7 linked regions of the Homo sapiens genome follow. The protein of the gene in region 1 interacts with the protein of each later gene in a pairwise test. Each region holds a gene or a part of one and is shown in the gene's direction. Other genes may lie near its edges.

What was found.
Region 2: the proteins of STX8 (region 1) and MCEE interact in binary tests that used the Homo sapiens proteins (3 or more experiments, as listed by UniProt).
Region 3: the proteins of STX8 (region 1) and NDUFAF2 interact in binary tests that used the Homo sapiens proteins (3 or more experiments, as listed by UniProt).
Region 4: the proteins of STX8 (region 1) and GPR152 interact in binary tests that used the Homo sapiens proteins (3 or more experiments, as listed by UniProt).
Region 5: the proteins of STX8 (region 1) and GPX8 interact in binary tests that used the Homo sapiens proteins (3 or more experiments, as listed by UniProt).
Region 6: the proteins of STX8 (region 1) and TSPAN12 interact in binary tests that used the Homo sapiens proteins (3 or more experiments, as listed by UniProt).
Region 7: the proteins of STX8 (region 1) and GORAB interact in binary tests that used the Homo sapiens proteins (3 or more experiments, as listed by UniProt).

What each region holds. Positions count from the first base shown.
Region 1 is NC_000017.11:9,254,321-9,257,820, reverse strand, and holds part of STX8 (syntaxin-8), read left to right. Parts: intron 1-3,500. UniProt on the Homo sapiens protein: Vesicle trafficking protein that functions in the early secretory pathway, possibly by mediating retrograde transport from cis-Golgi membranes to the ER.
Region 2 is NC_000002.12:71,109,187-71,113,229, reverse strand, and holds the end of MCEE (methylmalonyl-CoA epimerase, mitochondrial precursor), read left to right. Parts: intron 1-2,371; coding exon of another isoform or gene 2,372-2,392; exon of another isoform or gene 2,393-2,467; intron 2,468-3,107; coding exon 3,108-3,260; 3' UTR 3,261-3,543; downstream 3,544-4,043. UniProt on the Homo sapiens protein: Methylmalonyl-CoA epimerase involved in propionyl-CoA metabolism.
Region 3 is NC_000005.10:61,098,705-61,102,204, forward strand, and holds part of NDUFAF2 (NADH dehydrogenase [ubiquinone] 1 alpha subcomplex assembly factor 2), read left to right. Parts: intron 1-287; coding exon 288-328; intron 329-3,500. UniProt on the Homo sapiens protein: Acts as a molecular chaperone for mitochondrial complex I assembly. Complex I functions in the transfer of electrons from NADH to the respiratory chain. The immediate electron acceptor for the enzyme is believed to be ubiquinone.
Region 4 is NC_000011.10:67,450,801-67,453,874, reverse strand, and holds GPR152 (probable G-protein coupled receptor 152), read left to right. Parts: upstream 1-1,145; 5' UTR 1,146-1,150; coding exon 1,151-2,563; 3' UTR 2,564-2,574; downstream 2,575-3,074. UniProt on the Homo sapiens protein: Orphan receptor.
Region 5 is NC_000005.10:55,165,484-55,167,797, forward strand, and holds the end of GPX8 (probable glutathione peroxidase 8), read left to right. Parts: 3' UTR 1-1,814; downstream 1,815-2,314.
Region 6 is NC_000007.14:120,809,645-120,813,144, reverse strand, and holds part of TSPAN12 (tetraspanin-12), read left to right. Parts: intron 1-2,574; coding exon 2,575-2,682; intron 2,683-3,500. UniProt on the Homo sapiens protein: Regulator of cell surface receptor signal transduction. Plays a central role in retinal vascularization by regulating norrin (NDP) signal transduction.
Region 7 is NC_000001.11:170,551,750-170,554,334, forward strand, and holds the end of GORAB (RAB6-interacting golgin), read left to right. Parts: intron 1-265; coding exon 266-713; 3' UTR 714-2,085; downstream 2,086-2,585.

The sequences.
Region 1 (3,500 bases):
AGACGGGGTTTGGCCATGCTGGCCAGGCTGGTCTCAATCTCCTGACCTCAGGTGATCCACTCGCCTTGGCCTCCCAAAGTGCTGGGGTTACAGGCATAAGTCACCACGCCTGGCCAGAATATGTGTTTTGGTTCAAGACAACCAAAATAGTAGTAGGCAGCTAAGGCGGCTTTCCTTGCAACAAAACCAGATAAAAAGACTCCTGGATAAAGCGCCCTTCACCCCTCCCTGCCTCTTGCTTTCCCATCAGCCTACTTGCCACGTTCCCCTGCAGCTACAGGGCAGAAGTGGCCAACACAGAGATCCACACTCTCTCGAAAAGTCAGCCTCCAGATTCTTTCTCCTCCTTCCCCTCCTCCTCCATGTCAGTAAGCACTGAGAGCTGTTACCTACACCCAACTTGTGGCAGGGGCGTTGGCAGCACAAGCTCCGTATTTTGCTCGTTTCCAGTGTTTCACTGGAAAAAAGTATGGACCATGACTCCAGATGACGAGTCTTCAGAAAACACCATTCCTGAGAGACTGTGTTTAATATCCTCTCCCAGTTTGAAAAGGAGTTTGTTTTCTTACATCTTTTTTTAATTGCCATGAGCTGGACTTGTAAATATTGTAAGTGGTTGAGTAATACTCATCTGGTAAACTGACCAAAGGAAATGGACATTTTTTTCCACTCTTGTAACCCTGGCATCCCATGCCTGCCCCTGAAAGGGACTCTTGAGTATTGGAAGGGAAAATCTGCCTCGCCAGGTGCCAGCGGGCCCAGGGCAGGAGCTGAGTGAAGCGCAGAGAAACGATCCCGAAGTCAGGAGCCGCAGCAGGTGTTCTGTGCTAGGGTTGGGGGCAGAGAGCATTCATTGTTTAAGAAGTTGGCAGCCTCCCAGAAGTTCAACTGTCTTTCCTTGTTCTGAAATGTCAAACATTTCCTTAGCTGGGGGAATGGATGAGTAGACCCCCCTGAGGTTTAAGAACTATTCTGAGGCAGAAGAAGGAAGTTCTGCTTTTCACACGTGACCGAGTACGATGTGAGGTCCCATGTCCCTCCGGCAGGGGGGTCGGCTGCGCCCCTGAAACTGGAGCCACCTTCCTACATCAGAAGAGTTGCCAGCTCTTCCCTGCCTCTGCCTTTAGGAACCGTCAGACCCTCTGTGGTTATGTGGGTAGTGGGGGAGTGTGTGTGTCTTTTTAATGGTGCCTTTTAGTGATACTTACTGAAATATTTGTAGATGACCTATGTCTGGAATTTGTTTCAAAATAATATGCAGGAGACAGGGAGCAGGTGAGGGTTTGCATAAAGCCAGACAGGCCATGAATGGATCCTTGCGAAAGCTGACGGATGGGCTCATCACTGTTCTGCGTGCCCTTCGGTCTGCTTTTGTATATGTTTAAAATTTTCCATCATAAAACGTTAAGGAAGGGAAGGAGGGAGGGAGAAAGAGAAGAGGATGAAAAGAGAAGAAACTCTTGATCCCGGTGTTTCAACCCCAGTGAGTCTGAGCCTCTCTCCCCGAGGGACCCCCACACTGTCTCGAATCAGGATGCCTCCACTCAAGCTCCACTGGTGTAGACAAGGGTGAGCGTGTGGGCAGAGGGGTCCTACCCACCTGGATTCCAATTCTAGTTCTTCCTCTTACCCGCCAGAGGGCCTTAGGTAGGAGAGTTCACCTTCCAGAACCCCAGCTTCCTCAGATATAAAACAGAGATGAGGGTTACTTACTGTGCAGAATTAAACCAAGTAATACACCCATAGCACTTAGTGCCAAACCTGGCACGCATGACTGTTTCATGAACGGTGTGGCTCAGCTTTCCCTGGCTTCAAAAAGATCCCTGCTTACTCATTCCGAAACATCCTTCAGAGGAGAGAAACTCCATTCAGAAAGGTGCCAGAGCTGGGATCACATTCGAAGAAAGCCAAACTTCTTAAAGAAAAAGGATTGCCGTGCTAAGGTAGATAAACACCTTCTCTTTGACCCAAAGAATCCAAAAGACAGCAGTTGGCTTTTGCTTATCGCTGTCACCTGCCATCTTAAAACGACCTCCTCAGTTGACCCTCAGTATATACCAGTTTACTTAAGCCTGTTTAAAGTCTCCCCCTGTTTGCTCTGAAAGGGTTTAAAATATAAAAGCCTTATTTGTCATGGCTCCTAAAATCCTCCTTTTCATCTTGGGACAAGAACCCAGTTTATCACATCTTATCAGCTTACTGTCCAAGATGTCCATCACTCAAGTTCATTTTCATTTATTTATTTATTTATTTATTTATTTATATATTTATTTATTTATTTATTTATTTATTTTGAGATGGAGTCTTGCTCTGTTGCCCAGGCTGGAGTGCAGTGGCACAATCTCAGTTCACCACAACCTCCGCCTCCCGAGTTCAAGTGATTCTCCTGCCTCAGCCTCCCAAGTAGCTGGGACTACAAGCGTGCACCACCATGCCCGGTTAATTTTTGTATTTTTAGTAGAGACGTGGTTTCTCTGTGTTGGCCAGGCTGGTCTCAAACTCCTGACCTCAGATGATCCGCCCGCCTTGGCCTCCCAAAGTGCTGGGATTACAGGCGTGAGCCACAGCGCCTGGCCCATTTTCATTTTTTATAGATAATGTGTGCCCTGTCATGCCTTTCCTGGGGCACAGTTTGTCTAATTCACAGCATCTGTGGTAGAAAAATTAGCAGCTTAGCCACCACTGTATTAATAATAGTTCCACTAGACCCACCCACCATGCGCTAAAACTGTACTATGAAAGGTCTCTGCAGCTCTTCTGTGGAAGAGCATTCTTCTATCTTGTCTCTGTAGTATTGTGGGTTGGCATTGGCCACTTTTTGAATTTTCTTACTCATTGGCCTTCTTGCCACATTTTCTCAGCTTCTCCCTCTCTGCTGACCACTCCTTCTATGCCTCTCTTGACTCTTCTTATCCCTTCCAAAAATTCAATACATTTACTCATTTGTTTTATACACACACACACACATGCACACACGTGCGCGTGTGTGTGTGCCTCTTTCCTGTGCCAGGCTCTGTTCTAGGTACGGGGGATATGGCGGTGAACGAGAACCCACAGTCCCTGGTGTAGATGTTCATGTGTCCAGGAGAGACAGACAGTAACTGAGTACCTAAATAATGATTCAAGGCCGGGCGCGGTGGCTCACGCCTGTAATCCCAGCACTTTGGGAGGCCCAGGAGGGCAAATCACTTGAGGTCAGGAGTTCGAGACCAGCCTGGCCAACATGGTGAAACCCTGTCTCTACTAAAAATACAAAAATTAGCCGGGCATAGTGGTGGGCACCTGTAATCCCCGCTACTTGGGAGGCTAAAGCAGGAGAATTGCTTGAACCCAGGAGGCGGAGGCTGCAGTGAGCCAAGATCACGTCACCGCACTCTAGCCTGGGCGCGAGACTCCATCTCAAAAAAAAAAAAGATTTAATAAGAGTTACCATGGAAACTTAGGGGGGCAAAGAGGGCACAGGTAACTGGAGGATGACAAAGAGTTCTTTGGGAAAATGC
Region 2 (4,043 bases), on another chromosome or scaffold:
TCCTCAGAGCATACTGACGTCTCCAGCTCTAATCCATTACCACATAGACCACACTAGCCTTTATCTTCTCATTCCAACAGTGAGAAACTTAGCTCCCACTATCAGCCATCCATCTACTTCGTTGTTCAATTTCGGTATGATGTGTGGTAGTTATATTTGTCTTCTAGGGCTGCTATAATAAATGATCACAAACTTAGTGGCTTAAAACAGAAATTATTCTTTTCACAGTTCTAGAAACTAGAATTCCAAAATCAAGAGGTAAAAAATATGGAAGAAAAAGAAAACAGAATAGAGCATAAGACAGATGTAGGACATGGTCAAAAGTTCTAGCAGAATATAGTTGGAGTCCCAGAAAAGGAAGAGAGAGAAAATAGAACAGAAGCAGTAATTGAAAAAATAGTTGACAAGGACACTACCAATCTGATGTAAAACATCACTCTATGGTTTCAAGAAAGTCAGCAACCCCAAGTAGGGCAAACAGAAAACTACACCAGGCCGGGCAACAGTGGCTCACGCCTGTAATCCCAGCATTGTGGGAGGCCAAGTCGGGCAGATCACTTGAGTTCAGGAGTTCGAGACCAGCCTGGCCAACATGGTGAAACCCAGTCTCTACTAAAAATACAAAAATTAGCCAGGCATGGTGGCACATGCCTATAATCCTAGCTACTCAGGAGGCTGAGGCAGGAGAATCGCTTGAACCCAGGAGGCAGAGGCTGCAGTAAGCCAAGATCATGCCATTGCACTCCAGCCTAGGTGACAGAGTGAGACTCTGTCTCAAAAAAAAAAAAAAAAAAAAGGCAGGTGCAGTGGCTCACGCCTGTAATCCCAGCACTTTGGGAGTCAGAGGCGGGCACATCACAAGGTCAAGAGATCGAGACCATCCTGGCCAACATGGTGAAACCCCTTCTCTACTAAAAATATAAAAATTAGCTGGGCATGGTGGCGTGTGCCTGTAGTCCCAGCTACTCTGGAGGCTGAGGCAGGAGAATTGCTTGAACCCTGGAGGCAGGGGTTGCAGTGAGCTGAGATCGCACTACTACACTCCAGCCTGGGTGACAGAGTGAGACTCTGTCTCAAAAGAAAGAAAACCACACCTAAGCACACCATAGTCAAACTGAAAATCAAAGATGACAAGAAAATCTTAAAAGCAATCAAAGTAAAAAAGACATATTATAGAATGACATGTAATGACACTTTTTAGTTGCTGACAGAAAAAACCTGCCAATTTAGAAATCTGATTCCGGCCAAGTTGGTGTAAAAGAGATCAGTTTATCCTCCCTGAAACAAACAAGCAACCTAGACAAAATACATGACATAATGGATTTCTGGCATTGGACATCAGGCAGCACAGGAATTGATTTCTGAGAGAGGGTAAACAAACAAGATGAGCCCTACAATTACCCAGTTTACTGGCTGTAGAGAGTTTCCAGACTGCAGTGCAGGAAGGGGGAATCCACGTGGAACTTAGTGGTCTCCCTGAGTTGCGGAGATAGGAGTTGGAAGTCTGAGGAGGCCATGGTGCTAGAGTTCACAGCTCTCTCCTGGAAAGGAGAGCTGCACAGAGAGTGAACTCTAAAGATCTGTAGTACCTTTCATGTCTTCATCGGAGCTTCGAGTATTGCACGCATGTTAGGAAGCTAGAATAGAACCCCTTGAAAGGATTAGAGGGAATAATCCACACACAGAGGTGGGGATAGTTTTTTCTTACTAGTCATAGTAATTTCCGTAACATTGGGAAGAGTACTCAGAAGGGCTTTGGCTTGGTAGTGAGGAAAATTAGTCCTAGACTAAAAGCTGCTCCAATCCCACCTAACGCAGCAGAAGAAAAGCTTAATAATATTGATATGAATTTAAAAATAAGATAAAATTGACAATGTCTGACATCAGTGAGGACCAATTTTCCTCACTAAGTGGGTCGAGCCGTTCCTGCCACGAGCTTCTAGTGCATGTTCTATTCTGAAAAAGATGAGAATTAACCAGCTACAGTGCAAGATGTCATGAAATGAGCTGTGTTCAGAATCTAGGCACGTGTGACTTTGACATATCTATGAGGTTTAAAAAAGAAATATCAGGAATACAAGTAGAATATGTGCCATATGAAGAAATCATAGCTTATTTATGTAACATTTAGTATCCTCATTAGCTGTTTGACTGGTTTTAGAATTCAGCATATAATCCTTGGCTCTTTGGAAATAAAATTGTATAAATACTAATATTTATTAGATCTGAATGGTAGGTACATGGGTGTTAAACTAGTCTCTGTGCTTTTGTGTGTTTTTTTTAATTAAACTAGTGATTTTAATTAAACTAGTGATTTATGACTGCCTAGGAATGTGGCCATTCATATCATACCTTTTCATCCATTTCTTAGGTTCCCAGTCTAAGTGGGTGACTTTCCAAGATAGAGGCAGATCATTTCTCCGTCAAGTATAGAGAGACACATCTGCTCCTCCTAGAGTGTCCATAAGTATGAAGAAAATAGAAATAACTTAGAAGAGGCTGCAAAAACATTAAAGTTTGAAATTTTTTTGGGTGGGGAATAACATTTTGATGGCAATTTAATAGTGATTTTCATGTGTGTCTTGATAATGTCAAAGGTAATAACCAGGTGTTTTGGCAGGGCAAGTTTTGGGGATCAGGGAAACACTCATATTTGCTAAGTACCTATTATGCCATAAACTGTACTGAAAGCTTTTTATCTGTTACCTCATTTTAATCTGTAGTCAATTTATGTGGTAGACCTCATTTGCCTGTTATAGATGAGGACCCAGGGTTCTCAGGAAAAAGCAATGTCTTCAATCTCACTAATAGTACTGCCAGAATAAACTATTATAAAGTATATCATACATGATTTAGATTATAAGAAGAAACATTTACTAATGGTGAAAATTCTGAGCATTGTGGTTGCTTACCTAGAAAAATTTAGTAACTTCTCTTACTTCTCTGAAAATTTTAAGCTTATTTTTTATGATGATTTAAGAATGGTCCTGCCCACAGGCAGAGGAGATAGACTGCATGAGCTCTCAAAGTTTTTTCTAAGTCTTATGATACTATAAGTTGGTATTTTTATGATCTCAAATGTGTTCAATTTATTTCCCTTTCTTAAGGTGGATAATATTAATGCAGCTGTGATGGATTTGAAAAAAAAGAAGATCCGCAGTCTAAGTGAAGAGGTCAAAATAGGAGCACATGGAAAACCAGTGATTTTTCTCCATCCTAAAGACTGTGGTGGAGTCCTTGTGGAACTGGAGCAAGCTTGATTTATATTTGCAAGCAACTAAATTAATTGACCTGAAAAAGCCTATCAAATACTATCAAAATGTACTATGACATTGAGTCCTTCACTGCTTCCATCATGTAAAAGTTCACAGTTAAAGACTGAATTACAGAAAGATTAAAATATATACATATATAAATACATAAATATGTATATTATTTAGATTAACAAACATATTTGTTAATTTGAATTTGAAGAAAATCTTGATTACTAATTACTTAGGGAACATTATTAAAATCATATAGAAATAAATTATTCCTCTTCTACAATGGGGTAATTGAATGTAATGTGTTAGCTGTGTACAAGGGTATGTGTGTGATGGATGGATACACAAAGGAGTTATGAAAGTATGACAATTTTGTGGCTAATATTTGGGGCAAAAGTTTCTAAGAATGTTTTGGAATACTTTTTTAGAGCAAGCTGTGTAAGATTAGGGAATTTTAATCTCAGAAGTTTTGCTCTTCAAAAACAACTCGTGGTCACAGTTTCCTCAGGGTCCAGGTGTTTTGGGTGCTAGGGCTAGATGTATAGGAAGTTTTGTGGAAAACCTGGTGCGTCATCTAGTAGGCATGTAGATGTCTGAATTATTTTTTTAAATCAGTAGTAATTTGTAGAGTTAGGTATCACGTAGATGCTAGAACACCACAACAGGTCCTAGGGGAATATACAAAATGAATAGAAATCCACTGCCAAGATGCTTATGGTTCATTTGGGGAGAGTACTGCTTGAAATAAATGTAAACACTTACAAAACAACATCTGAATGA
Region 3 (3,500 bases), on another chromosome or scaffold:
TATGATTTTAAACATATGAAACTGTCCCCTCTTTATCTTCTCTACACTATTATATTCTCTTCATGACACATATCACCACCAACCATATGTTTGTGTGTTTATTTTCTGCAACCCCTTCAGTAGTACATGTGCTACAGTAGAGAAGGGACTTAATCTGTTTTATTCCCTGCTGTATCTCCAGTACCTAAAATAATATGGAGTAGGTACTCAAAAAAATTTGTTTTATGGATAAAAATGTTTGTGTAAATTATGGGAAACTGACATTTAAATATTATTTTTCTTTCTAGCTTGGATTAGAAGAACAAGAAAGACTCCACCTACTATGGAGGTAAGACTACACAAGGAGGATATCATTTAGGAGTATATATTCCCAAGGATATACGAAGCTTCAGAAAAACTATGATGTATTTTCTCAAAGTGTTGATTTTATTCCATCACAGAAAATAACTTAAAACATTTTATAATAAATTAATATATAAACCTATATTATTAATAAAATAATATATGATAAAATAAATGCTCATATTATGGAATATAACAAAATTTGTATAAATTTTAAAGTGAAATAATAAAAATTTAAAACAAAATTAAAACACTCTGTAGAAAGTCTGAACTTGGAGCAGTTTGCACCAGGTTATTTCCCCTGGGCCCTGGGGGTTCTCTGTGCCAATACTCAAGCTTTTGTGGAAAAGTTTGAGAAACACTGAATCTCTTTGTCTTGTCCAAATCATGCTCTTATGTTTCCCTTAATATTATGTATTTAAATCCATCAAGTATCCAAAGAAACTTTAAAATACAGAATTAGCAATTATTTTATAACAGTAATTATTAGTTGACTTTTTATTTAAAACTAAAAAATTTGTAGTCAGTGATAAACAATAAAAAAACATAGAAATGCTATGGTATATATGTTTTACAATATAATTTTTATATAGATTATTTTATAAAAATTATAATTTTAATTTTAAAAATATGTAAAGACCTCTAAAGTTATTTTATAAGAAGTAATTTCATAAAAGGAGAGTCTCTAAATGCATTAGTGTACTGCCTTGTTTACTTTTTGTCTAGAGGCATTCCCTTTCTTCTACTATTTAGGACTTCCCTCCTCTCTTCTGTTGCCTATTCTGTCACTACTACAAGCCCTGATGACAACATAAATGGGCTCCGGTACTCAATCCCCATTTGTTGGGAAGTGGAGTGCTCTAGAGCAGGATAATGATGATACCTCAACTGGCATGCTTATGTTTATTTGCTCCATACATTTGTCATATACTGAACCCATTAATGTTCATTCGGCCAGGGTCTGACTGAGTACATCTCTTGACCCATTTCTAGCTTTGTATGTTGCTTCTGCCTTGGCCTACTTTTCGCAGACCCTTCTTTCCAACATTGATAAAATTTGGAATAAAAGCTGTTTTGGGGGGAAAAAATAAAAGGCAATATGATCCAGGATTCAGAAGTATGCCCAGTAGTTTACAGTGAAGGATGGATTGAAGAGCCTTCTGATTCTCCTTCTCTTGGTCATAATAAGAGCTACTGTTATCATTTGCTTCATCCATCCTCAGAACTTTGAAAGCCTTATTCATAGAAACATTAATATGCAAAGTGATTAATGGAGGCAATTGCAATAGTTGGGCCTCAGGCACAACTTCTGTAAATTTTAGGTAATTTCAGCACCTCAAACAATCTCTAGCCAGAACACACCAAGTCCTTCCATCCCTGAGCTCACTCTTGTTAATTTTGATTATCCAAAATGAGCCCTCTTTTGTTGCCTCCCTTTAAGTGTACTATCAATCACATTGTTCTTTATGCTGCTTCGTACCCTCCCTAATACACACACACACACACACACACACTCTTTTCCTTCCTCTTGGCCCTTTCCATTGTGTTTCAGGAATTTCTGTTTCTTTGTTAGCAAATTACCATTCACCATTAATATTTTCCTGGAAACTTTCTCTACCACAGAACCTCAACTGAAATCCGTCTGTGCCTGCAAGATAGTGAGTTCCTTTTTTTCCTTGAAGTAAGTTGTGCTCGCTTTCCCACGCCCCACATAAAGAAAGTGAGTTCAACTGCTTCTTGCTTCCCCAAATAGTCTTTGTTTGTGGACCCAAGAGAGTGGAGGACCTTTGTAATCCATGTGTATTTCTCTGTACCTGACCATCATTTTTATGTTTGCCAACATCCAAGCCAGTCTACCTTACTGATGGTCGAGATTAGAACCTGGAATATGGTCTTCTCCTTTCAATGCTTTCCCAAATTTTAGCTTTCCAGTTCTTTGACTTCATCCATACTAGTATCCCTGCCTCAAGTGAACAACCACTTCATTAGGCACACTTTAGTTTTTATCAAACACAGTTCTTACCACTGTAACTTTTACACTCTTCAAATCCAAATTCTAGATACATCATATTAAGAGGAAAAAATTTTTCTTAATGTAAAGTAAAACATATATTTATAAACCGTAACAAAAAAATAGCTTATTTAGTTATTAAGCTGTGAAATTATAAGGCAAATTCCACCCAGGTCAAGAAACACAACTTTGCCATCTACTTCAGCCCCATATATCCCATCCTAATCACAACCTTCTCTCTCTTGACAAAAGAAAACCTTAAGCCAACTTTTATAGTAATCATTTCCTCTCATTTTAAATAGTTTTTTCACCTAAATGTACATTATAGTTTAGACTTGTCCATTTCGTAAAAACTTCGTATTTGTTTTAAATCTTTCAGTCTATCCTCTTCCATTTCTTTTACTTCCTTAGAAATTTATGTGTTAAAATACCCAGCCCAGTTGGCCTACAGAATTTGCCACAGTCTAGATTTTGCTGATCTTATGTTCCTGGTGCACTTCATCATGTTCCTCTGTCCACTGTTTTCCTTCCAAGTTGACAACTGGATCCAGAAACTAGATTTTTTTTCCAGATCTTTTAGTGAATACCCAACTCCAAATAAACTTTCTTTCATATCTCCTATATATTATTGCTAAAGGTTAGCCAGCAGCCATTAGAATGTCATTTACAACAGTATTAGAAAACATAGAATACTGTGGAATTTAGTGAGCAAAACATGTGCAAGATCTGTGTACTCAAAACTACAAAATGTTGGTAAGATACATTAAATAAGACCTAAATAAATGGGGAGAAGTATCTGTTCATGGATTGGAATGTACAATATTGCTAATGTATTCATTCTTCCCAAACTGATCCACAGTAGTTCTTATGCTTTTATTTTGCATCTGCATCACCTGAAAGACTTGTTAAAACACAGATTGCTGGACCCCAAGCTTAGAGTTTTTGATCCATTAGTTTTGAGGTAGGGCCTGAATATTTGCATTTATAACATGTTGCTGGATGATGCTGATGCTGATGGTTCATAGCCCATATTTTGTGAACCACTGATTTATAGATTTAATAAAATGAATATCCAGTTAAAACCATGTCAGACTTTTTTGATAGAAATCAACATGCTGATTTGAAAATATATTTGGAAATGTAAAAG
Region 4 (3,074 bases), on another chromosome or scaffold:
TGGGAACCAGAGCCCTCCCTTCTTGGAATCCTAAACACTCGAACCCCAGAGGAGCAGGCATAAAGGGGCCTTGTGATGAGCGGACCAAACGGTCTTCAAACTGTGTTCCCTGGAACCCTGGGGGGTAGGGGTACTCTTCCCTCCCTTAATTTGAGCACCCCCTTTTAGTCCATATAGGAGTTCCACTAGAATACTTTTTTTTTTTTTTTTTTTGAGACAGAGTTTTGCTCTTGTTACTCAGGCTGGAGTGCGATGGCACGATCTTGGCTCACCACAACCTCTGCCTCCCGGGTTCAAGCGATTCTCCTGAGTAGCTGGGATTACAGGCATGCGCCACCACGGCCAGCCAATTTTGTATTTTTAGTAGAGATGGGGTTTCTCCATGTTGGTCAGGCTGGTCTCGAACTCCCAACCTCAGGTGATCCTCCCAAAGTGCTGGGATTACAGGTGTGAGCCACCGTGCCCGGCCTTAGAATACTTTACTTACAGACAAAATTCCATACCTTTAACAATGTTTGAAAGCCTCCGGGTTAGTCTATCCGGACCCATTGGGATTCTACATGGCAGAAGATTAAGTCTGTCTGGACAGTGTCTCATGCCTGTAATCTCAACATTTCAGGAGGCCAAGGTAGGAGGATCACTTGAGCTCACGAGTTCAAGACCAGCCTGGGCAACACAGTGAGACCTTGTTTCTACTAAAAATTTAAAAAGTAGTGGGTGCACACCTGTAGTCCCAGCTACTAGGGAGGCTGAGATGGGAGGGTCGCTGGAACCCAGGAGGTGGAAGCTGCAGGGACTGTGCCACTGCACTCATCCTGGGCAATAGAGCAAGGCCCTGTCTCTCAAAAAAAAAAAAAGAAAAGAAAAGAAAAGTCTGGGTTGAGCCCTGGCACCTCCCTTCCTACCTTCACTGATTCTCTGAACCTTCCTGTCCTCGCCTGTAAAGTAGATTGTATGAGGACTCCATGAGGTCATCCACTTCAAGTCCTTGGCATAGGATAATTACTCAAAAGGTGATGACAATGGCGCAGGGAGGGATGGTGACTTGCCTGGAGATGCACAGCACCGTCTCTCCCATACTCGGTCATTCACACCATCATTGATTCACCAGGCACCCACTCCGTGTCCAGCAGGACTCTGGGGACCCCAAATGGACACTACCATGGAAGCTGACCTGGGTGCCACTGGCCACAGGCCCCGCACAGAGCTTGATGATGAGGACTCCTACCCCCAAGGTGGCTGGGACACGGTCTTCCTGGTGGCCCTGCTGCTCCTTGGGCTGCCAGCCAATGGGTTGATGGCGTGGCTGGCCGGCTCCCAGGCCCGGCATGGAGCTGGCACGCGTCTGGCGCTGCTCCTGCTCAGCCTGGCCCTCTCTGACTTCTTGTTCCTGGCAGCAGCGGCCTTCCAGATCCTAGAGATCCGGCATGGGGGACACTGGCCGCTGGGGACAGCTGCCTGCCGCTTCTACTACTTCCTATGGGGCGTGTCCTACTCCTCCGGCCTCTTCCTGCTGGCCGCCCTCAGCCTCGACCGCTGCCTGCTGGCGCTGTGCCCACACTGGTACCCTGGGCACCGCCCAGTCCGCCTGCCCCTCTGGGTCTGCGCCGGTGTCTGGGTGCTGGCCACACTCTTCAGCGTGCCCTGGCTGGTCTTCCCCGAGGCTGCCGTCTGGTGGTACGACCTGGTCATCTGCCTGGACTTCTGGGACAGCGAGGAGCTGTCGCTGAGGATGCTGGAGGTCCTGGGGGGCTTCCTGCCTTTCCTCCTGCTGCTCGTCTGCCACGTGCTCACCCAGGCCACAGCCTGTCGCACCTGCCACCGCCAACAGCAGCCCGCAGCCTGCCGGGGCTTCGCCCGTGTGGCCAGGACCATTCTGTCAGCCTATGTGGTCCTGAGGCTGCCCTACCAGCTGGCCCAGCTGCTCTACCTGGCCTTCCTGTGGGACGTCTACTCTGGCTACCTGCTCTGGGAGGCCCTGGTCTACTCCGACTACCTGATCCTACTCAACAGCTGCCTCAGCCCCTTCCTCTGCCTCATGGCCAGTGCCGACCTCCGGACCCTGCTGCGCTCCGTGCTCTCGTCCTTCGCGGCAGCTCTCTGCGAGGAGCGGCCGGGCAGCTTCACGCCCACTGAGCCACAGACCCAGCTAGATTCTGAGGGTCCAACTCTGCCAGAGCCGATGGCAGAGGCCCAGTCACAGATGGATCCTGTGGCCCAGCCTCAGGTGAACCCCACACTCCAGCCACGATCGGATCCCACAGCTCAGCCACAGCTGAACCCTACGGCCCAGCCACAGTCGGATCCCACAGCCCAGCCACAGCTGAACCTCATGGCCCAGCCACAGTCAGATTCTGTGGCCCAGCCACAGGCAGACACTAACGTCCAGACCCCTGCACCTGCTGCCAGTTCTGTGCCCAGTCCCTGTGATGAAGCTTCCCCAACCCCATCCTCGCATCCTACCCCAGGGGCCCTTGAGGACCCAGCCACACCTCCTGCCTCTGAAGGAGAAAGCCCCAGCAGCACCCCGCCAGAGGCGGCCCCGGGCGCAGGCCCCACGTGAGGGTCCAGGAACACGCAGGCCCACCAGAGCAGTGAAAGAGCCCAGGGCAGACAGAGGAACCAGCCAGTCAGACAGGTGGGGAGCCGCCGACAGCTTTGTCCTTAAAAACCCTGCTGAGTCCGTCAGGCCTGGAAGGAGGACTTGAGGGAGGGGAAACAATCCAGCCAGAAGTCTCAGGCAGTTCCATGTCAGCGACCCCTGCTCCCGGCCATCAGCCTTTTCTGTGGTTGCTCCCAACACACACACAGTCGCCCGACAGCCCCCAAACCGCAGCTAATGGCATCTTGCGGGGTACTGTCCCTCAACACCCCAGACCCCGCTGACTATTCTTCCCTGGGCCTCAGTCCTGCTGGAGGAAGACAACAGGGGGCACTTTCCCCGGGCTTGACCTGACCTCCCTTTGGTCCTTCCCTCCCTCTCCTCCTCCGGGCCTGGACACAAGGACGTGAAACAAAAAAGTCCCTGAAGAGAAGGGGGCCTCCCAGGAGCCACCAGCCCCAAGCAGGAGCCT
Region 5 (2,314 bases), on another chromosome or scaffold:
ACCTGATGGATGAAAGTGAAGATGTTTCGTATGGCAAATTCAGTAATGCTACCTCAGTATATAGTTCTGTATACGTATTTGGACCAAAGTTATTAGATAAACCAAAAATATTTCATGAAGCATCTTCTGCTTCAGAGTCCATATCCAGCCACCCAGCTATGAATGTATTTAGAAAGATATTTGGTGGAGGTGGAATTTCTACCAGAGGTCAAGAGGATTTGTAGGGATAGCCTCAAGAATGCCAGATGAGTGTGTCAGAAAGCCTGCTCCTACCTCTCGCCAGCTGCGTGACTTTAGGCAAGTCACTTAAGTACCTTATTTCAGTTTCCTCACCTGTAAATTGAACAGGGGTTGAATGGAATAAAAAGCCCTTTGCAACTCTAAAAGTCAATTAACACACTTACTAAGGTGTTTTAAGTGACCAGGAAGGAAATCAGAACTAACCTGGATTGTTAGCGAAGAAAACAGAAGCCACCAACAAGCCTATCTGTCCTTTGCAATTTTGCTCCAAGAGCCTATTAGCAATTTGAATTCTGAGCCTCTAAGAAAACTTATGCTCAGGTGGCCCCTCCAAGTGTTGGTGCCAGAGCACTCTTGCCTTGTATCCTCACCTACGCCTTCCATGAACTCATAGCAGTGCTGTGGCACTGCAGGGGTGTTTTATGCATTCACGTTAGGAGCATGAGCAGAACTGCATATGCCAGCACCACATGGGCAGCAGAGACTCCCCACTGCCAGATGGATGATAATGGAGCTGCACTGGGAACAACCAGGACTGTCCCAGTCAACATGATACAGATGAACATCCTGCCTTAAGTCACTAGCTCTCTCCAAAGCCAGATAAAGTGGGTTTCTTCACTTACATCTCTCTAATCTTGGCTGCCTTATTCAACCTACAGACTCTATGTCAGTGCTGGATTTTCTCCCCTTGCCCTTTAGGTAAGCAGAGTAGGCAGGAGGAGATTTGAAAGCGTGTCATACATATTGCCTTGAAAGAAAGGACATTCAGGTGTCCCTTCGGGGTTCTGTAACAATTAGGCTATGTGTGCTGAGAGAGGGAGCGGAGTCATTTGCTGATGTGCTGCTACCTGTAACTCAAATGCCTCATAGGAATACCAGCGGACAAACACATAGAGGAAAAGTTGAATCTTTCCTATATTGGACAATCTTCCTTCAGTCTTGTTTCTGCATCAAAAAGTCTGGGACACAGAGTGCTACAGGATGCCTGGGCTAAGGACTGTAACAGAAAAATATCAACATCAGAGCCTGGCACAGTGGCTCACACCGGTAATCCCAGCACTTTGGGAGGCCGAGGCGGGTGGATCACTTCAGGTCAGGAGTTCGAGACCATCCTGGCCAACATGGTGAAACCCCCATCTCTACTAAAAATACAAAAATTAGCCGGGCACGGTGGCACATGCCTGTAATCCCAGCTACCTGGGAGGCTGAGTCAGAAGAATCACTTGAAAACAGGAGGCTGAGGTTGCAATGAGCCAAGATTGCACCACTGCACTCCAACCTGGGCAACAGAGCGAGACCCCATCTTAAAGACCCTGTCTCAAAAAAGAGAGAAAAAGAAAAAGAAAAATATCAGGCATCACATGAAAGAGTATTCAGCTGTCGTTCTTGTGAAAAAGGAAAAGGACAAAATCAAATGCATTTTAACTGTGGTAACTAATTCACTGACTTGAAGTTTGCTTTGTTTGTTTTCTTTGGTGCGTAGAGAAGAATACTTCATACTAACTCCTGATCATCTTACAGCAGACATAACAACAGAGTGTTAGAGACTGGAATAAATATGAATTTGGCTGAAATGTGCCCTGAAAGTTGTATTTCATTTTTTTAAATGTTTAACAATTACACTGTATCAATAGTATATATACGTGTACATATATATAATTCTTAATAACTGCAGTGTATCTAGCATATATATAATGGTGGCTGGTACATGTTTAATAGCAGACTCTGGAGGAGGAATCCTGACATACAGCATTTGCCAGCTCAATGTAAATGCTCATGCTCCCTCATGGTCAATTTCAATCTACCACTGGTTTAGTAACTAGGATGCAAAATTTCTAAAAATGTGATAATTGGTGATGGGCATGATGGCTCAGGCCTGTAATATCAGCACTTTAAGCAGCTGAGGTGGGAGGATCACTTGAGCCCAGGAGTTAGAGACCAGCCTGGGGCAACATGGCAAAACCCTGTCTCCACAAAAAAAATCAAAAAATTAGCTGGGTGTAGTGGCACATGCCTCAGGTCCCAGCTACATAGGAGGCTGAGGTGGAAGGATTGCTTGAGCCCAAAGAGGTCA
Region 6 (3,500 bases), on another chromosome or scaffold:
GGCTTTGTGCTTTTAGCTGTTCCATGCAAGGAACCAATCAACCTGTGTGTTACTTTATGACCAGACCTCAGTATTTGTGCCAGAACCTCAATGGTCTCCTCTGTTTTCTTCCACATTTGGTCTCAGATTGATAGTGGTCACAATAAGGAAACAACCTGTATTTATTTTAGAAGGTAAAGTTTAAAAAAATTGATATATTAACTAAATCAAGTAACTTGACATCAGATAATGTGTTTTCTCATTATTTCTGGTTTTTTTTGTACTGCTCATCTTCTATTCATTATTCCTTCTCTAGATAAAATCTGTCAGTGATAAGAGTTTCAGATTGTACATTTCTAGATAATTTATTTCACTTCCATTTATTTTATGCCCAAAAGGTTATGAGATAATATTAATTTATGGTGAGTAGCTTGAACTTTGACTAGTTCCCTGAACCTTGTTGAAGGCATATGAACACAAAGTACACCCGTTTAGCCCATTATTTGGGGGAAAAAAATGTGTGCCCAAGTGTTTGGATGTTTTATTGTGTATTTCCAAGTAATCAAAAAAAAAGTTAACAAAGAAAAAAACGAAGATTTTCTGTGGTCAGGAATTTTGAAACTGCTTCTATCGATATGACTATCTTAAAAAATAAGATTTCATAATAATCCTAATCTCTAGTTCTGTTGGAGCCTTATTTGCTCATGTCTCCCTTTTTTCCTTTTTGGTTCTCTATCTTTGTGTTATTTGTTGAATGTCAAGCTTGCTTTACTAAGCCCAGTCTATATTACTTCATAGATCAGATGGGAATGTCCATCCAGTTTCCCAGAGTTGCCTTAATACTGTGTGTGTAATGAGATTTGCATTTGTATACCTCAATTTCTCATGGCCCTGCAGTAAAATCATAGCTTGATATACTGACCAGATTTCTGGCCAGTAATGACTGTTGTATTGTATTGTATTACAACAATGACTGTGGTACTGTATACCTAAAGCTCTGTCATGATTAAATACTCTGTAATAGACATGGTGCTAGGTGATTGGAGAATAGAAGCACAAAAATGCTTTACTTTAAAAACTGTTCTTTCTTTTTAAATTATTTTTAATTTTTTTATTTCAATAGGTTTTTGGGGAACAGGTGGTAGTTGATTACATTAATAAGTTCTTTAGTGGTGATTTCTGAGATTTTCGTGCATCCATCACCTGAGCAGTGTACACTGTACCCAATGTGTAGTCTTTTATCCCTCGTCCCCCTCCCATCCTTCCTCCCGAGTCCCCAAAGTCCATTGTATTATTCTTATGGCTTTGTGTCTTATAGCTTAGCTCCCACATACGAGTGAGAAAATACGATGCTTAGTTTTCCATTCCTGAGTTACTTCACTTAGAATATTGGTCTGCAATTCCATCCAGGTTGCTGTGAATGCCATTATTTTTTCCTTTTTATGGCTGAATAGTATTCCATGGTATATATATTTTCTTTTCTTTTTTTTTTTTTTGAGACCGAGTCTCGCTCTGTCACCCAGGCTGGAGTGCAGTGGCGTGATCTCGGCTCACTGCAACCTTCGCCCTCCGGGTTCACACCATTCTCCTGCCTCAGCCTCCCAAGTAGCTGGGACTACAGGCACCCGCCACTACACCGGCTAATTTTTTTTTGTATTTTTAGTAGAGACGGGGTTTCACTGTGTTAGCCAGGATGGTCTCGATCTCCTGACCTCGTGATCCGCCCGTCTTGGCCTCCCAAAGTGCTGGGATTACAGGTGTGAGCCACCATGCCCAGCTGATATATACATTTTCTTTATCCACTCATTGATTGATGGGCTTGGGCTGGTTCCACATTTTTACAATTGCGAAATGTGCTGCTATAAACATGAGTGTGCAAGTATCTTTTTCATATAATGACTTCTTTTCCTCTGGGTAGATAACTAGTAGTGGGATTGCTGGATCAAATGGTAGATCCACTTTTAGTTCTTTAAGGAATCTCCACACTGTTTTCCATAGTGGTTGTGCTAGTTTACATTCCCACCAACAGTGTAAAAGTGGAGAACTGTTCTTTCTAAAATTCTAACATACCTCTTAATTACAACTTTTGAAAAAGTGTTGATAAAATTATCCCAGAGTGAGGCTTGAGTTGAGCCAAATTCTTTCCCTTCTTAATTCTTTCCTCTTTGTTTTAGTACTATTATCTGCAGTTGCTTCAAAGAGCAACAACTTCATAGCATTTTGAAATCAAATGAAGGACATTTCTCTGCAGAGGTTATTTGTTATGTGAAAGTCTTCAGTATGTCTGTGGGATGTACAGTTAATTACTTGTTGGTGATTTCCTTGAGCATTAAAGTGATTTCTCATTTTTTTCCTTAGTACAAAATACCTCTTCATTTATCACAAAAATCTATACATTGAGATTGTCCAATAACTACATTGAATACTCTGAGCTAAATTTAGGCCATGAGCAAATATAAATTTAAAATAGTATTTGTCAATTAGAAGACATTCCGAGTATGCGTGTGTACGTGTGTGTGTGTGTGTGTGTGTGTGTGTGTGAATCTGTGTCTGTGTGTGAGCTACAGCTGTTGATATTTTGCTTTTTATCACCAGGTTCCAGTACAATGGTCAGATATGGTCACTTTGAAAGCCAGGATGACAAATTATGGATTACCTAGATATCGGTGGCTTACTCATGCTTGGAATTTTTTTCAGAGAGAGGTAAGTGCTACAATTTCTGAGGTAGAGAGAGTGAAGTAAGTGGTGCACCTTCAAACCAGATGTTTAAAGCTTTAGCTTTGGTAATTTCCTCTGTGCTGAAAAATTAAGCCTGTGATTCAGTAACCTCTGGTGCAATTATTTCTTGAAAAATATCTTAGGTAACTTCATGGCCTGCTTTTCTTCCCATGTATACCATTTCCCCTTTATTTCACATGGTTCACATATATTTAAGAACATCTGAAAAGCCATTTTGCTAAATTATTGTGAAGTTTTCTTTTTATGAGAGTTAACTTGATAAATATCCAAGTTCCAGACAAATAGATTTTTTCATGACTTTTAGAGCTCTCAATATTTTAAACATAATTTTAGTTTTAAAAAAAATGATTGTTCTCATTTGGGACTTTGAAGTCAGTATATCATTAATGGCATGATCTGTTCAGAAAGACCTTGGTTAAAATCATAGCTGTGCTGCTTGCTATTAAGTGAGCTTCTATAATTTACATAACTCCCTTAAGTCCTGGTTTTCTCACCTTTAAAATAGTGATAATAAAAATACCTCTCTCTTCAGGTTGTTAAGAAGATTAAATGATGCGATTTCATTTAGCCTATGGTTATTAACAATAACATTACAAAGTATAGGTGCGTTTAGCATTTCTTACCTAACCGCCATGTAGCACTGCACCCAACCATCTTCTCAAGTGGGGACTGTATTCAGATGTTTAAAATTTGGTGACTTGGAGTTAACCATTGATCTTGCTTCAAACCAAGCTCTTCTTCCAAGCAGTTTCCTTGTGATTGAAGTGACATTCCCAGATGGA
Region 7 (2,585 bases), on another chromosome or scaffold:
ACTCAAAAACAGCTTTGTAAAGAAAACATTCGTGCAGAATAACATGTTTTCATTAGGTGAATTCAAGTAAGGATACTGTGAAAGTTTCAGCAGCCATAGCCTAGTCTGGCCAACATGTAGACAAGTGTTTGTAAAGTAGTAATATCCGTATCTTCATTATATATTTTTTCCCAATTTTGGAGTTGAGTTATTGTTTCTAGATCCTCTTTTGAATATCTTCTTCAATGGAAAACTGATGGACCTATCTTTATACACATCCTTACAGGAAGCGGTTTGACAGGGCTGAAGCAGAGTACATTGCAGCAAAGCTAGATATACAGCGCAAGACTGAGATAAAAGAGCAACTCACTGAACACCTTTGTACGATCATACAGCAAAATGAGCTCCGAAAGGCCAAGAAGTTGGAGGAGTTGATGCAACAACTAGATGTAGAAGCCGATGAAGAGACTTTGGAGCTTGAGGTGGAGGTCGAGAGATTGCTACACGAACAAGAAGTAGAATCAAGGAGACCAGTGGTTCGTTTAGAGAGGCCATTTCAGCCTGCGGAGGAGAGTGTGACATTAGAATTTGCTAAAGAGAACAGAAAGTGTCAAGAACAAGCTGTTTCCCCAAAGGTAGATGACCAGTGTGGAAATTCCAGTAGCATCCCCTTTCTTAGTCCAAACTGCCCAAATCAAGAAGGTAATGACATTTCAGCTGCTTTGGCCACATGAAGTTCTGGTATTCTTTTGAGCTAATATGGTATTGAGTAAAGTATACTTTTTGCAGTAGATCATGCCCTGACCTCCAATAAAAACCTCTTTAAAACAATGCTGATTTTTGAATTCATGATTAGTTTTAGTAAATTAATAGGTTTGGCCATTCTAAAATCCAAAATTATGATAACTGTATTTCTAGGGGTATGTTTCACCTTGATTTTGGCCCGGTTCTTTCAGTGTTCCGTTTACCCTTTTTACTGAAAGTAAGTGACTTAAAAGGATGGAAGAAAAACTACATGGTTGGAGTGTTTTTAGATCAGATAAATATAGAAAAGTAAAATGGAAAATGATACTCAATACCTAGTTAAACTCATTTCACTTCTCCTGGGAGACGTATTAAGACTGGAAGTCCTATTTTATTTAATCAGTATCAGTAAAAAGACAAAAATTACAGTGTGAACAAGAGAAAAACAGGAATAGAAGAAAAAAGTTGCAGGTTGAATTATCTATCTGGATATTACTAGAGTTGTAAAACACAACTTGGAAACTGGAATTTATGTGAAGAACCAAACAACTTAAACCAGCATCACTTTTGTCTTCAATTTGCCTTCCAGTGATTTTAGTTTACAACCTGCGTTTTGTTATTTGAAACACACACACTTATATATAAACACATGTAATTTTACTATTTTATTGTCTTTCCTTTAATCGATGAATTGATTAAATTTAGACAATTAAAACATTTCTAAAGTGAGACTGAAAATAATATAGAAAATCTCATTGCTACTTGTGATTATCAAAAAAAGTATGTATTTTCTTTCTAAAGTTATCTATAAATATGTTTTTGATATGTTGGACATGAATTACCCTGTCATGAAGCGTTTAAATTGTTAAAATGCTGATTTTCTTATTAGTTTGTTAATTGCCTGTTACTAGTACTTGACCAATACATTGTGCTATATGTAAATGTGTAAATAAATATTGTAATTTTCTCACAAAGTCTGTGAATATCACATTATGATTTATTTATCAGAAATTCCAAAAAGTAAAAATATTACCTTTGAGGACTTTTTTTTTTTAAAAAAAGAATTATTATCAGAGAACATAAGCACAAGTATAAGATTGTATCCATAAAAGTTTCTGAAAAACTTAGGGACATCCTGTTTTTAAATGGGTTTGTTTGAGGGTATTATCTTCTGGTAATATAGATGAGCTTTATATTTTTATATTATGTAATTTGAGTTGAAAGTATAACATTTTACTACTGACTTCTCTAAACAGAAGCATTTCTATAGATAGTTGTGCTTTTATTTATGAAATACATAAAAGCCAACAGTTTCATTGTCTAACACACTTCTTTTTCTAAGGAATAAACAAGTCTGATGTACTTATAGTGTCTTTCATTTACCTTAAAAAAATTTCAAACAGTTTAGTATGTATTAAGCATTGTGTGACAATAATGCATCTTGGATCTCCTTGTGGTACATACAGTTACTTACTTTTATTAAGCCTCTGTTAAGGAAAATTCATTATCAGTGAGGTTTTATAATATTGGTTAAATGCAGGCATGTGCAATCTTAATTCTCAGTGTAAACCCTTCAAAGATATATGAAGAAATGAGAACCGTGAAAAAAATATAAGTTAGATGAGACCTCAGAGATAATCTAATTTAATCTTTTATTTTTTTGAGATGGAGTCTCACTCTGCCACCCAGGTTGGAGTGCAGTGGCACGATCTCGGCTCACCGCAACTTCCACCTCCCAGGTTCAAGCAATTCTTCTGCCTCAGCCTCCCAAGTAACTGGGATTACAGGTGCCTGCCACCACACCTGGCTAATTTTTCTATTTTTAGTAGAGACGAGGCTTCACCATGTTGGCGAGGCTGGTC